Linked DNA regions of Homo sapiens: region 2 is linked to region 1. The links come from fine-mapping of genetic effects on gene expression. Tissue or cell type: whole blood. Region 1 holds a variant in brackets; the other region holds the start of a gene. All regions are shown on one strand. Distances are from middle to middle.

The links. PIP is the estimated chance that this variant, and not a neighbour inherited with it, causes the effect.
Region 2: it holds the start of HISLA, and the variant in region 1 is the best candidate, but not a certain one, in a credible set for the expression of HISLA in whole blood (TOPMed, PIP 0.86).

What each region holds. Positions count from the first base shown.
Region 1 is chr14:88,093,498-88,101,684 of GRCh38, forward strand. No RefSeq gene overlaps it. Among named protein-coding and RNA genes, the nearest start is that of KCNK10-AS1, 63 kb to the right of the region's middle. The variant C/T (reference allele first, on the strand shown) is at 3,141.
Region 2 is chr14:88,020,768-88,028,954 of GRCh38, forward strand. HISLA (HIF1A stabilizing long noncoding RNA) reads left to right here and starts at 3,783. Exons shown (of 4, transcript NR_046094.1): 1 at 3,783-3,902; 2 at 4,640-4,714. LINC01147 (long intergenic non-protein coding RNA 1147) reads right to left here and starts at 5,545. Exons shown (of 3, transcript NR_110121.1): 1 at 5,321-5,545; 2 at 2,908-3,009.

The sequences.
Region 1 (8,187 bases):
TGAGAAAATATATTTCTAATGTTTAAACCATCCAGTCTGTGCTACTTTGTCATGGCAGCCTAGCAAACTAAGACAAGGCATAACTCTCCAACATTTGTAAAGGAGTGTCAAATACGTCACTGTTGATCTTCACATTAACCCTGCAAGGTATATATTATTATGCGCATTTAAGGAAACTGAGGCTCATCAGATAAGTAACTTGCCCAAAATCACACATCTACAAGTAGCAGAAAGATACATAGAGAACTGGGAGCATACTGCACATATTTTTATCTGCCATTTTTAACTCAGTTGTTTTATCATGGACATTTCCCATATCACTGAAAATCAAAGTATGTCAGTTTAGGTTTGCTTATCTCAACTTTGAATAAGCTGCCTAGGAAATCTATGTAACAGAGGAACATCTTGAAAACTAACATTGGAAAAAATAAAAATGAAACATAACTTGTTAAAACCAGCAAGGAATTTAGTGATCACCCAAGAAGGCCAAACACTATGACAGGTGACAACAAGGCTATGGCACATCCTGGGTCCTAGAAAGGCTGTCCTAGTTCATGTGAATATTCTGGGAAGGACTTTCTCATCCTCCTTGACCCCAAGAACTATGGAGGGCTGAACAGGCAGGTTGATCCCTCTCTAGCTCTGGGTCTCATAGAGCAAAGAGGATGATGCTATTAGGGTTCACCTCACAGTGTATTAAAGGAGGGAAAGACTTAAAATGGTTTACAGTGAGGTTTGGGAAACATTAGCAATGATTTCTGTGATTTAGAAGATAAAAATAAAAAATTCTATTCTTGCTTTTTATATATAGATTATCCAGTTTATTCTTGATAACCATTTTCAGAATGACATGGATCATCACTGCAAGACCGTAGGTGTACATCCAGTAGAACTCGGGGAAGAACCAATATCACGGAAGAAGAAAGAGAAGAAAATTGATGTATTCATTACCTCTAGAAGCTTACTATCCAGTTGGGGATATGACAAATCTTAAAAACAAAAATTGGAAAGAAAAAAGACTTGCTTAAAGTAGCCACCGATTGTTTTTAAAAGACCTAATAAGAATTTGTGTGAATATACTTTATAAATTTTGAAGCACTGTAACAGGTTCTTAAACTACTACATGTTTTAAAAATACTGATTTTTTTCTGAGTTTCAGGCACTATTTTGTAATTATTAGTAACTAGTGCATGTAAGTTAGCATAGCAGAGTTGAAACTGAGTTAGTAGTTGCCTAGGAGACCTAAAATAAAGAAGCAACTCACAAGAGTTGGAGGTTGCCCTCGCTCACACTGCCACAAACATTTTTAAACACCACCACGGCTTATGGACAAAGTAGACACGGCACAGGTTTAAACTCAGGGCTGGGGCTGGAATCCCAGCTCCGCTACTTAGTAGTTATTTGACCTAAGATAAGTCATGAAAATGCCATTGATGATAATAGACCTTGAAGCGCTCTTAAAAGATTTCATGATAATGCATGTAGAGTACCTGGCCCACAGTCAGGGCACTATAAATGGAAAATCTTATTACTCTTAGGAGCTATTATTAGTTTTCTAGGGCTGCCATAACAAAGTTCCACAAACTGGGTGGCTTAAAAGAAATTTATTTCTCACAGTTCTGGAGGCTAGCCATGCAAAATCAAGATGTCAGCAGCGTTGGTTCTTTCCGAGGGCTCCCAGGGAGCATCTGTTCCATGCCTCTCCTAGCTTCTGGTGATGGCTGGCAATTCTTGGTGTTCCCTGCTTGTAGAAGCATCACTCCAGTTTCTGTCTTCTTCTTCATATGGTGTTCTCCTTGTGCCTCTGTGTCTTCACATAGCCATCTTCCCTCTGTTTCTCTCCTTTTCTTATAAGGACACCATTTGTATGGATTAAAGGTCCACCCTACTCCAGTATGGCTTCATTTTAACTAATTATATCTGCAATAACCCTATTTCCAAATAAGATCACATTCTATAGTACTGGGAGGCTGGACTTAAACATATCTTTATGGTGGCAGGGGCCACAAGTCAACCCATAACAACAACTTAAGTTCAGCTTCTAGTCCCACAAACCAGCCAAGTGACCTTGAATGAAGCACTGCCTCCGATACTCAGTATACTCAGTATCGTCATTTATAAATTAAGACAATAGTATCTCTTTATAGAATCTCCCATAGAGTCAAAAAAGACTATAAGTGAGAGTGCTTTCTAAACTATAGAGCATTATATAATTTAATTATAAGTATTTCTATAAAGATTACAGAGTATTTTGATGCCCATTTTATTCTTAGCTTAGCTCCTATAACCCCTCTGAATCGTCCATTGCCCCACAGTTCCTTGCTTGCCTTCAACAAACTCAAATAGGACATTTTTTAAATGATTTGTCCTCTTAACTCTAAGCGAACTAAATTATGCCTGTGTATTATTGGGCTGGGGCAATTGAGTTACCTGACCATTTCCATGAAGTCACAGTGCTAACCTAATGCAATGTGACAGCTTTTTCCTGTAGCACATTCTTAAAATTTGATTATTCTGAGTAAGAAAATATTCATTGAGAGGCTCACCAGGATTGCACCAGGCCTGTTTAGTATCCATATGTAAAGGTTAAGCTCCAGGAGTGAGAGCCAGAGGGCAGCTGAGCTGCCATCAGTCATCTTTCTCAGGCTCCAAATTGAGGAGAATTAATGTGTACCTGCTTCTGTAACCTTCCGCTGCAGAATTAGACCATGAATAATAAAATCCACGATTAGTCATAAATTGGAAGAGATGGGTTTTTTGTACTGCAATAAAACAATTGAAAAGTAAACAGGCCTTTTATACTTTCATAAAACAGGCACATTAGAGCATCCGAAATAGCCTTCACTTGGGTTCTTCATTACACTGATAATGACTGCATATTGCCAGTATGTGCCCTCTTAGTGAATAATTTTTTAAGGGCAAAAAACAGAGTACATAGGTATTTGGTTCATTCTCATTAAGTTTTGTACTGAAAAATGTAACCTCTTTTTTCTATTTTCAGATGATGCATATCATAAATTATTACTCACCCCATGTTCCCACCCTCGAGAGACCTCCAAACAATCACCATGCCACAGTGAACATTCAGTAACAAAAATTCAGCCAGGGTTTTCACCAGCATGAATGGCAGTGATTCCAAT[C/T]AGGAAAACAGAAAGAGGAGAGTTCAGAGCCACCTAGAATGGCTCTTGCAAGATACGAAATCAAGGCAGCAGCAACAGGGCTGAACATTCCTCATCCCTAACTCTCCCTTCACCAGTAGGAAACCCAGGATAACTGCAATCACCGCAGGCCCATCTGGCCTGAAGTTCTACTACTAGTAGCCCTCCATGGGACCTTCTTAAGGAAGCATGTCAACTCAGGTAAGGGATGTAAGGGGATGGATGACCCTTTGAGGCCAAAGTTGGAGCAAAAAACACCAGATGTTCCTGTGCACTGCTCCTAAGAGATGGTTCTGAAGACCAGTTCGGGGAGAGGTCAAAATACTGGACAGAATCTCAGCAACATGGAACCTCAAACTAAGTGACAGTCACAGACAACTCTTCCCCAAAGAAAATAAGCACAGACATGGTTTGTGGTAAGCAGAATTATAAAGATGAATTCCCATCTCCCTGTCAGATTACCAGTATGGTAAATTACCAGATTACCTGGTTATTTATTCAAACACTAATACAGTTATTGCCTTGATGGAAACATACAGATACAATTAAAATCCCAAGTACCAAATAAATTGACCTTAAGACAAAGACTAAGTAAATCACATGAGCCCTCTACAAGCAGAGAGTTTTTCTCCAGCTGGTAGCAGAAGCCAGAGATTTGAAGCATAGGAAGTATTCAACACATTATTGCTGGCCTGAAAATGGAAGGGGCCACATAACGAGGGAAACCGGTGGCCTCTAGAAGCAGGGAGCAGTCCCCTGCTGACAGACAGCAAGCCAAGACCTCAGTTCTACAATTGCAAGACACTCAATTCTGCTAAGGACAAAAATGAGCTTGGAAGTGAACTCTGAGCTTCAGGTGAGAACACGGCCAAACAACACCTTGATTTCAGCTTAAACAAAGAATGCAGCCACTCCATGCCAGAATTCTGACCTGTAGAAATTTGAGCTAATAAATAGATGTTTTAATAGCTTCATCGATACATACTTCACTTACTGTAAAATTCATTATTTTAAAGTGTACAATTCAGTGGTTTTCAGTATATCCACAAAATGCAACCATCACCACTATCTGATTTCAGGATTTCTTTTTCTTTTCTTTTTTTTTTAATCCCATAAAGAAAATCCAAACCAATTAGCAGTCTTTCTTCCTTCTCCCTGCTCCCAGCCCGTGAAAACCACTAAATTACTGTCTGTTTCCATGGATATGCCTATTCTGGATATTTTATATAAACCAAATCATGCAATATGTGGCCTTTTGTATTTGGCTGCTTGCACTTAGCATAATGTTTTCAAAATCCATCCATGTTGTAGCATTTCTCAGTATTTCATTCCTTGTATAGCTGAATAATATACCACACAAATATATCACATTTTGTTTGTCCATTCATCATTTAATAGATGCTTAGGTTTTTCCATTTTTTAAGTATTATAAATAATATGGCTTTTAATATTTGTGTACAAGTTTTTCTGTAGGCACAGGTTTTCATTTCTCATGGATATAAACCTAGAGTGAAATTGCTGGGTCAAATAGTGGCTCTATGTTTAACAATTTGAGGAACAGCCAAACTGTTTTTTGAAATGGCTGCATTATTTTACAATTCTGTCAACAATGTATGAGGGTTCCAATTTCCTGACGTCCTTGTCAACACTTGTTAATGTCTGCTTTTGTATTTTAGGCACCCTAGTGGGTATGTCATAATATTGCATTGTGATTTTGATTTGCATTTCCCTAATGGCTAATGTTGTACATCTTTTATATGTGCTTATTGGCCATTTGTTTATGTTCTTTAGAGAAATGTTCTGTTCAAACACTTTGCCCAAGTTTTAACTGGACTAATTATCTTTTTATTGTTGCGCTGCAAGAATTCTACATGTATTCTGGAGTAGTTGTTTATCCGAAATACAATTTGCAAATATTTTCTGTCACTGTATAGGTTGTCTTTTTACTTTCTTGATAGTGTTCTTTGAAGCAAAAAAGTTTTTTTATTTTCTTGAACCCCAGTTGATCTATTGTTTCTTCTTTTTCTGCTTGTACTTTCGGTTTTATAGCTAAGAAGCCATTGCTTAAATCAAGTTCACAAAGATTTACACCTCTGTTTTCTTCTAAGAGATTTACAGCTTTCTTTTTTTTTTTTTTTTTCTTTTTTGCTAGAGAAAGGATCTCACTGTTGGCCAGGCTGTTCTCAAACTCCTGGGCTCAAATGATCCTCTTGCCTCAGCCTCCCAAAGTGCTGGGATTACAGGCATGAGCCACCACGCCCATCCAAGTTTTACAGCTTTAGATGTTGCATTTAGATCTTTGATCCATTTTGACTTAATTTTTATATATGGTGTGAGATAGAGGTTCGGCTTTATTCTTTTGCCTGTAGATATCCAGTTGTTTCAAGCCACAGTGAGATACCACTTCACACCTACTAGGATGGCTACAATAAAAAAAAGACAATAACAAATATTGATGAGAATTTGGAGAAATTTGAATCCTTCAATTTGCTAATAAGATGTAAATTAGAGGAACCACTTTAGAAAACATTTTGGCAGCTCCTCAAAATGGGTATATACCTGTAATTTTATGTTTAAAACATAACTGTAATTTTATGTTTAAAATTACTGTTTGACTCAACAATTCCACTCCTAGGTATATACCAAAGAGAAATGTAAACAAAGGTTTACACAGAAACTTGTATAAAAATGTTAATAGCAGCATTATTTATAATAGCCAAAAAGTGGAAACAAGCTAAATATTCTTCGACTGACGAATGGATAAAGAAAATGTGGTATATCTATATGATGGACTATCACTCTACCATTCAAAGAAACAAAATACTGAATCATGCTACAGTATGGATGAATTTAAAAACATTATGCTAAGTGAAAGAAGCCAGACACAAAAGTCCACATATTGTGTGATTCCATTTATATGAAATGTTCAGAAAAGGCAAATCTATAGAGACAGAAAGCAAATTCGTGATTGCCTAGCGTGGGGTGCAGAAAAAAGTGGGGATTGGAGGGTGATAACTCAGGGGTGCAGGGTTTCTTTGGGGGGTGATGAAAATGTTCTAAAATTAATTATGGTGATTATGGTTACACAGCGTTATGAATATACTAAAGACCATTAAATTATATACTTAAAATGATTGTATTATGTGGTATATGAATTATAATTCAATAGAATAGTAGTAAAAAAACAGGTGATGGAAAGCATTTGCCTGCAGTCTATACTTTTTCTACTCCTGGTATAGGAGAACAAGAACAAAGAAGTCACTCAGATTGTTTTAATTGCCTTTGTACTAAGGAGAAAAATAAGACCTATGTCAGGCACATGGGTAGATGGTTCCTCATAAAGGCTTAAGACAAAACCCAAGTAAATAAAAATGAGTTTGTATTTTTCTGATGAACTTTTTTGTATATGTTTTATGTGAACTCATGTGAGGCAGAGGCAGAGAGTCACTATACATGATTTCTAGATACTGGCCATAAAACTTTCTTTCTCATCATTGCTAATAGGAGAATCAGAGAGCATATAGTTACAACTAGTTTTTTAATTCAATCTGGCAATCTCTGTAGTTTAATTGAAGTTTTTTATAAAATTTATACTTAAGGCCAGATGAGGTGGCTCACGCTTGTAATTCCAGTACTTTGGGAGGCCGAGGTGGGTGGATCACGAGGTCAGGAGTTCGAGACCAGCCTGGCCAAGACAGTGAAACCCCGTCTCTACTAAAAATACAAAACTTAGCTGGGTGTGGTGGCAGGCAGCTACGCGGGAGGCTGAGGCAGGAGAATCACTTGAACCTGGGAGGCGGAGGTGGCAGTGAGCCAAAATTGCACCACTGCACTCCAGCTTGGTCAACAAAGCCAGACTCTCTCTCAAAAAAAAAAATTATAGTTAATGTAATTTTTAACATTCTTTTGTTTTAAACCACATATTTTCATCTAGTTATTTATCCTTTCTATTATTCTTGTGTTTTAAACCCCCATATTTCCACCTAGTTTTTGTTTAATCTCTATTTTTTCTTCCATTTGCCTCTTTTTCTGCCTTCATTTGGATGATTATTTTATATTTGATATTAGCTTATTAATGACTATGCTTTCTATTATTTTAAGTGGTTGTTCTAGGTCTTAAAATACATATATTTGACTTAACATAGTCTATCTCCAAATATTACTTTAACCGCTTCACGTATATTGTAACAACTTTACAAGGGTATAATTCCATTTTCTTTCTCCTGTCCTTTATCCTAATATGTATACTTCTATAGGTGTTATAAATTCCACAACACATTGTTATTATTGTTGTTTCAAGCAGTGAATTTTTTAAAAAAAATTTAAAATTAGGACAAAAGTCTGTTATATTTAACCAGTATATTTACCTGTTCCAACATTCTTCAATTCTTTGCATAGAGCCAAATTTCTTCCATTATTTTCCTCCTGCCAAAGACCTTTTCATAGCCTTCTTACATTGGAAGCCTGCTGGTAATGAATTCTTCAAGCTCCACTTTTATATTAAAAAATTCCTTTTTAAAATCATTTTTATATTATTACATGTTATTGAATTATCATTTAACAGTATTTTGTTTGTTTTTGTTTTGTTCCCTCCACCCCTTTCTCATGAAGTAAAAATGTTTCTCAATTTTCTTTTGATTTACATAGTTTCTGATTTAAAGTCTGGCATCAGTCTTATCTGGTTTGTAATGTTTATTTTTCTCTGGCGGCTTATAAAATTCCCTTTATCACTGATTTTCATCAATTTGATTACAACATGGTGGTTCTTTTATACTTATTCTGTTTGGGATTCATTTATCTTTTTGGATTGCTTTATAAATTTCATCTCTTACGGAAAATGTTCATTTACTATTTCATCTCTTTTTTTGTTTTGTTTTTTCCACCCTGGGACTCCAATGACATATATTTTAGACCATTTAGTGCTTTTATACAGAAAAACGATGCTCTGTTTATTCTGTTTTAAGTATTTTTTTCTCATTATGCTTCTTTTTGGATAATTCCTATTGCTATACCTTTGGGTTCACTTATT
Region 2 (8,187 bases), 73 kb before region 1:
ATTTGGCTAAAGTTTTTCTTTTAACAACAAAAAGATGAAGTAGATATACCTTCTGATTCTACGAAGAATCCATGAGGTACAGAAAGCGAGAGCAAGAGATAGGACATATTTCCGGATTCATATTAAGAGAGATCAGCAAGGAAACCCAGAAGCAGAGCGGCAGAGGGGACTCATGCCTTGTTTGGGGTTCAGGGAGGAGATCACCTTTTAGGGCACCCCTGCATTAGTAAAATTGCAACAGAACAGAAAAATCGACATGGTGGTATACCATGGTGGTGATACTTAAGAAGAAAAGATAACTGGGAATAGGTCCTCTGCTGTGGGATAGGGAAGGAATCCAAACATTGTCACTTGCTCCCAGAGGAAGAAGAGTATGGAAGAGAGATGAGGGCCAGTGGGCCTCCCATGGATCCCAGTGGGAGGGAAACTTGACCCCATGGCAGAGGCTGCTGGGTGGAGAACCAAGGCCCAGGGTGGATGGAGGAGGCAGCTGAGACCATGGGGAGCTGCTGCTCTAGCAAGAACCAAGACAAGGGAGTATAACTGGAGGGGACACAGTAGACCCCCAGCAGACCACCAGATCACCAATTATACTGACTGTGGTCTCAGAAGCTTCTGCCAGGGGGATGCCTAATGGACAGACAGGACATCATCTCAAAGGCCAGAGGGGACCAGAAGACAGTATGAGGAGCAGCAGGTTGACATCCTCACAGCAAAGAGGACAGGTAAGCTTTCCTCTCCATCCAGTTGCCATCTTATGGAAGACTACATCTTGTGAGAGGCACCTCTTGTGGAAAGTGCCTTCTAGTGAGTGGCTCTCCAAGACGAGAAACAGTACTAAGAGGGGCATGGAACTTAAACTTGATTGAGTCTTTATCCAGAAGACATAAACAAGTCTTTAAAAGACTATTTAAGCCAGCAGACATGGAAATATCTTCTATGCACAAATTTAGGGTTTTTATTTCCCCACCAATGGTGGGAATGAGGTTTTCAGGGCGCAATGATGATAGTTTCTTTCCCACATCTAAATGTAGTGTGCAAATATGTCACCTTTCAACTCATCAAATGCTTGGCAAATTATGCAGGATTGTGCTATTACATTGATTTTACATAAGCCTAGTTTGTTTAAGCTAAATTTTCATCAAATAAAAAACAATAGCAGAAAATAGAGCTACTGTGAACAGCCCAGAAACAGTGCCTTGGTCATTGGATAGTGGAACAATGAATGGATGAATAATGAGGAAATTAAGTACTTTTCAAAATTTTCCTTCATCTTTACTTTAAAACTCATTTGTTTTTCTGGCATCCTTTGATGAAAATAATTTTCATCAAATGGATGCCAGAGGAAAGTATCAAAAAGCCACAGTGCATGAAGGAAGATATTACTTGGTGGAAACTTGGAGGGCTTGGAAGGGTTTTTTGAGTCCCTTTCAAGGAGGATAGACATAAAGATGCAATGCTAACAATCGCAATAACTATCACCACATTTCACTTCTGGTAAACATTGAATATTTCTTTGGACATTTGGTGTGCTGATTAGATTTTAAGAGAGGTATTATGAAAATTATATAGTGTATTGGGTTAATTGGACTGAAGTGGGAAGATGGTATGAGCTCTCCTGGGAGTTATCAATAGGGCTGACCAGGGCTGGGTAGGGCCCTTATTTGTAATGATGTCTGTCCTTTATTGGGTGGACAGCAGTGCTGCAGTGAACGTGCTAGGAACAGAGAATGAGCTCACTTTGAGGCATAACTGTTCTTTCAGTTCTAGCTGACCTGGAAGATTGGCTACTGTTGATCCTTGTCCATGTTTAGCTCTAGAAAGGCATTTGAAGAACATCCAGTACAAAACCCTCATTTTATAGGTGAGGGATCTAAGCCCAATTCCAAGTCTCCCAGTTCATAAATTTTTTCTTTACTGTAGATTTTTCTGGATAAAGGTGACAACAGATCACACACACACACACACACACACACACACACAAAGATTATTGGTCCAGGGGAGAAAAGTGCAGGGACACTTTCAGGTATGGCTGAATTCAAATGCTCAACCTCTGTGGCCAGGAGGACATTTTCACCATCTCTCAGTTCCACCTTTTGCTATTTTATTTTGGCTTTTATATGATGTCAAAGATGGTTAACAGCATCTCCAGGCCCAGGTTCCACAGATTAGAAAATCCAGCGGGAAGAGAGCCTCTTTCTTGGTATCTCTGGAAAATGTAAAGGTTCCCCTGCCCTTGTTCCTTCCCATCTTTAAACTGATCACTGTGGTTAGGGGTGTATAGTTTTCTCATAAGCCAGGGCAGGGCCCCATGCCTGCCCTGGAGAGTAGGGTCGGTCCCACCATAATAACAGAGACTGTAAGGAGAAGAGAGGATCGTTTCTCAAGGGAAAATCAGGATGCTGTTACCAAACAAAGGAGAGAAAAGAGTCTGTTTCTATGACTACATCTTTCTGGGCTGTGTGGTCCAAACACACCTGTGACACCAGACATGTCCCCTACATTATTTTCCATTGAAAACGATGTTTATTTCCTTTTATACATGGTGAGAAATTGAGTTTCTTTGCATAGAGAATAGACTCCTTCAGAAATATTCATTCTGGAAGGTAATGTCAGGAAGGATCCTGGCAGGCAATGGAGAGATCACTCAAATTCAGGTATTCTGAGGAAAGTTTAGTAAAGAGATATTTACAAAGGATGGGCAGGGTACAAGGAAGCCACAAGGATGATGCGTGAACTGGGGATAAGAACATCTGGGCACCCTGAGGCCCCTGGCTCTGAGAGGGCAAGCAGAGGGGGTGGTTACCAAAGCTGGAGGCACAGAAGTCTGTCTGCAGACCCCCAGGCATAGCCAGCCTATGGCCAGGCATTAAAATGAGAACTAGGGAAAGAAACAAAAATCCATACCTGCTTCTCCTCCCTCCCTCCAACTTGCTGCAGGAATTCCCTATTGAATGAACCACCAGGAAGCCAGTGAGAAATCTCTTTGTTGTAGGTCCTAAGATCAGCCTCCCAGGGCACAACGGAAGAAGGACAAAAAGTGGGAGCAGAGAAACAAACAGGAAGTCAGTTTCTTATCTATTTTTACACTCTATTCATGGGCTCATTCAGGGAAATACCCATAAGATGTCTAAACACATGCCCTGGTCTGATTTCCAGTGGCATTGACTGCTAAACATGTATGTTAAAAATGGCCTGTGTAAACATCAAAATACATGAGACGGTGAACATATCTAACAGCAGTATCAGTGTGGTCCCTTGAGGCTTCCTCTTGATTTGGAGGCATGAGGTTTGTTTGAACTTTTGTTCTTTCATTTACAGGCTACGTGACCTTTAACAAATGAGATAACCTCTCAGAGACTGTGTCCTTGTCTTTAATAGGAGGATATTTCCCCTGCCCACCTAATGGTATCTGTTATTCAGTGCAAATGAAATATTGGATATAAAAGTATTTGAGAGTGATAAAGTACTAATGTTATATTGATCTTTTCAACCTTAAAATATGAGCATAAGAAATACAGATTAATATTTTTATGGGTATGATTTTTTGCAATGTTTATTTCAGAGTTCTACGTGGGGAAAAGAAAGAGAGATCAGACTGTTACTGTGTCTATGTAGAAAGAAGTAGACATAAGAGACTCCATTTTGTTCTGTACTAAGAGAAATTCTTCTGCCTTGAGATGCTGTTAATCTGTAACCCTAGCCCCAACCCTGTGTTTGCAGAGACATGTGCTGTGTTGACTCAAGGTTTAATGGATTTAGGGCTGTGCAGAATGTGCTTTGTTAAACAAGTGCTTGAAGGCAGTATGCTTGGTAAAAGTCATCGCCATTCTCTAATCTTGAGTACCCAGGGACACGATACACTGCGGAAGGCTGCAGGGACCTCTGCCCAGGAAAGCCAGGTATTGTCCAAGGTTTCTCCCCATGTGATAGCCTGAGATATGGCCTTGTGGGAAGGGAAAGACCTGACCGTCCCCCAGCCAGACACCCGTAAAGGGTCTGTGCTGAGGAGGATTAGTGAAAGAGGAAGGCCTCTTTGCAGTTGAGATAAGAGGAAGGCATCTGTCTCCTGCTTATCCCTGGGAATGAAATGTCTCAATGTCAAACCCGATTATACGTTCTATTTACTGAGATAGGAGGAAACCGCCTTATGGCTGGAGGTGAGATATGCTGGCGGCAATACTGCTCTTTAATGCACCGAGATGTTTGTGTACATGCACATCAAGGCACAGCACCTTTCCTTAAACTTATTTATGACACAGAGACCTTTGCTCACATGTTTTCCTGCTGACCCTCTCCCCACTGTTACCCTATTGTCCTGCCACATCCCCCTCTCCGAGATGGTAGAGATAGTGATCAATTAATACTGAGGAAACTCAAGAGACCAGGGCTGGCGCCCGTCCTCCGTATGCTGAGTGCCGGTCCCCTGGGCCCACTGTTCTTTCTCCATACTTTATCTCTGTGTCTTATTTCTTTTCTCAGTCTCTTGTCCCACCTGACGAAAAACACCCACAGGTGTGGAGGGGCTGGTCCCCTTCAGTTCTAAAGCCCACTTGGCTCATTCCACATGTGGCAGTATTTTTTTACCATGTGAACACCAAAATGAATTCGTGGCAAATGCACCTCCCGTTTATTGCAGGCTTGCATGAAGGAAATGATTTCCTATGATTCTGCTTACTGCTTAAAAAAATTAATCAAGTTTTCTGCCTGACAAGTAAGTAACTGTGTTTATTTTCTGTTCATGACTAGGCAAAAGCACATAACATCCCTATGTGTCCAGTGAGTTATGAAAGTTCTTTAAAAGCAGTGCATTAGCCATGGATCTTCCTGCTATCTCTCCCCTGCAGTTTGCTGAGAATGTTTTCCATAATAGAACCAGGCTTATCACAATTTATTCCTGCCTTACTGACTACTAGGTCATTGCCTAGAGTTCTGAACCCCGGGTTGGAAGCTGTTAAAATTTAATAAAAACTACTTTAGAGAAAATGGTCACTCTCCCTTCATCCTCTCTCACCTCCCTCTGGCTCCTTGACCCCCATCCCTCCCTGAAGATGCTGGTCGCTAAGGCTCTTTTAATAGACTTCCTTATTGTCCCAGGTTTCTGGGAATTCATCAGTGATAGCTGCCATGGGTATGTTGAGAGGATACTATATGCTGAGAACTCCACATCTGATATTTTACTTAATTTCCCCACAATATTATGAAGTAGATGTTATTTTCCCCATTGTACAATAAGAGATGGAAAGCTAGAGAGGCTAAAAGCAGAACAAGAATTTGAACCCAAATGCCTGTGACTGTAACCACCATACATATAGCCTACCTGTTTCCATGTTGTTCTAGCAGGATCCTTGTTTTCTTCCTTCTTACAGTAAAATCTGACTGATCACTGTTGAGTAACGGATCTTAATTAGGTCGAGATGCGGAAGGAGTTTGCTCCTGTAATTTCAGGAGGTCTTTGCATATACCTATTATTGCAAATAGATTTCGCTTTATTGGAAAAAGGCTATCAGTATTCCCTGGGGACTCTATTTTTACAGCTGAGACTGCTGCTCTCTATCAGTCACTATGAAGTAGAAATTCTGATTATGATATCACATAAGATTCAAGGCCACTAGTGATAAATGTTCAAGAGGAGGTGTGTTCAGCTTTGTGATACACTATTGTGATAAAAATATGGCACAGGATTTTAAAAATATGAAAATGTAAAAGGAATACAAATATGATAAATGATTATAAGTCTATGTATGGAATTTAATCTATTTTTCCTAAATGCTGACTGTAAGCGGTTTAGCCCAGTGATATAAACTGTGCCTGAGAAAGGTCCCAGTCAATTTCATGCTGTTCATGTGCCATTTATTTTTACTTTTTAAGTACATTGGGAAAATACATAAGAAAAAATGTACATTCATCTTTTTAATGATACTATAAAAGATGGTGAACAAGTTAATCGGAAGAAAAGAAAAACAATTCATCTAGACATTCTTGCAATGAATTTTTGCCAAATGCTTAATTTTTACTAGATGCTAGGAGAATTGGGAAGCCTTAAGTCTGACACAGGATCCAGAGACAAAAATTACAAAGTAGTGAGTGCTATGGTAAGAGTTAAGTAAGAAGGTTGGATAAGATGTCCACTACTAGCTCAATCTTGAAAGCGTCCAGGACACTTGCCTCTGAGACCTAAACGACTGAGTGGGCATTGATCAAGAGTGGGAGGTTGTTTCAGGGTCAGCACATGCAAAGGACAGGCTCCATTTTAGGAAAATGAAAGTAGTTCAGTGTTATTGAAGCTGATGGTGAGGGAGGAAGTGGCAGAAGATAAAGGCTGGAAAGAAACAAGTCAATAAGAAGCCACAAAAAAGTTGTAAGTAGATGAATGACATGATCCAATTTGTGCTTTAGGAAGATTACTTTTGTCTCAGTGTCCAATATAGGTGGAGGGAGGCAAAATGAGAAGCAGAGAGTTATTTGATGGTGGAAAGAGAGAGCTGTTCAAACAAACAGGCAAGATTCAGTGGAGACCTGAACTAGGCAGGTGGCATCTTGGGTTGCAAGAAATGGACAGGTACAAAAGATATTTAGAAGGACAAGAAGGTATTTTAGTTGGATGACGTACATTTCAAAGGAACAAGGAAGAAGAATGGTCTGGGAATAGTATTGGTGAGCCAGGAGTCTTCATTTGAGTGGGCTGCAGGGAAAGTTGTGTCCTCAGAAGATGCCACATTTCAGTTATGGTACAATGGGAGGGAACATTCACTGTGGCAGTGGAATCACCAGAGGGCCACAAGTGGATCAGATTGGGAAGTGGGATAATATTCCAGCCTGAATTAGATTGTACAATCCCAGGGAGCAGGAATGAGGAAGGAAAGGGAGTAGAATAGAGAAAAAGGGGGAGTAATATGAGGATGCATTATAGGTCTAACTGCTTCCAGGTATGACTGATTGCTCAATCCCATAGGACCATCTTCTAAGAAGTTGTAATAATTTAATCACAGAGAAAAGTGAAGAATTTAGCCACTGGCTGCAGCCTCCAATTGGTCAAAGGTTTGTCTCACAGAGCATGAACCTCCCTGCACCTCCATATAACACATATTTGAGTGCAACAGGGTTCTTATATAAGTATCATCAGGGTGGCCCCAGGGAAGGAGGTGAGAAGTTGCAATAATGTCAGGTTGCGCTTGCATGCAAGTGATCAGAATATACCCTAAGAGCAAGTTATCTCAGTGGCAGCTTGAATGAAATCGGTGAGCCAAAGCATATAAATTAGCACATAAAAGGTGCATAATACAGTCCACCTTCTGCACTATTCAGGGCCACTTTCCCCCATCATTATATCCAAATTGCATACTACAATATAGGCCCCCATTTTTGTGAGAATAAGTTGTCCTTATCTATTCTACAAGAGAGGAAGCACTCGTCCAATCTGTCACAAGGTCCCCTTCAAGGGAATGGTCCACCAGAGTCTGATTGAGGATAAGTAAGACAAACTTCTGTTCCATAGCTGAACCTGGATCTGAAGTCATAAGTTATATTTATCTCCAACCTCTTCCAGCAATTCTATATTTCCCTCACTATGGGCCAGCACATTAGCTATCTGTGTTGGTCTCCCGGTGGGATGACACAAACATTCATCGTTGAGAGGCTTGAACCTTTATTTGCCTTATCCTTTTTGGGCCATAGTTGTTGCAATACAATTACGCATCAGCTTTTGACAATACAATTATGTAAGTACAATACAAACTATGTACAAATCTGTTATCGCTGGACACAGGAGCACCAAGAGATACCCTTGTGAAACCCTTGGGTTCCAGATGTGTTTCTTCTTGTCCTCACTGGTAACAGCAACTCTAGCTATTCAGCAGAGTCAGGGGCTATTACTTTTAATGATGTGCTAACTATTTATTCCCTGCTGGCCCATAAGCATGAGGAGTTCAACTGATATTTTCAGCTTCAAATTCAGGGGACCCTTACATTTTATCTGGCAGAATTATTCTCTTTCCCATCCACAGTCACAATTAAGATTTCTAATCCAATAGAGGCTAAAGTTGCAAGATGGAAGATAGTAAACACAAATTCCGTAATCACTTGGTTCCCAGTTTTATATAATTGAGCTACTGGGGATTCAAAACCATATATTGGTCATTGGCTTAATGTATATGCCATATCCTGGAAGATCACATTCAACCCTGC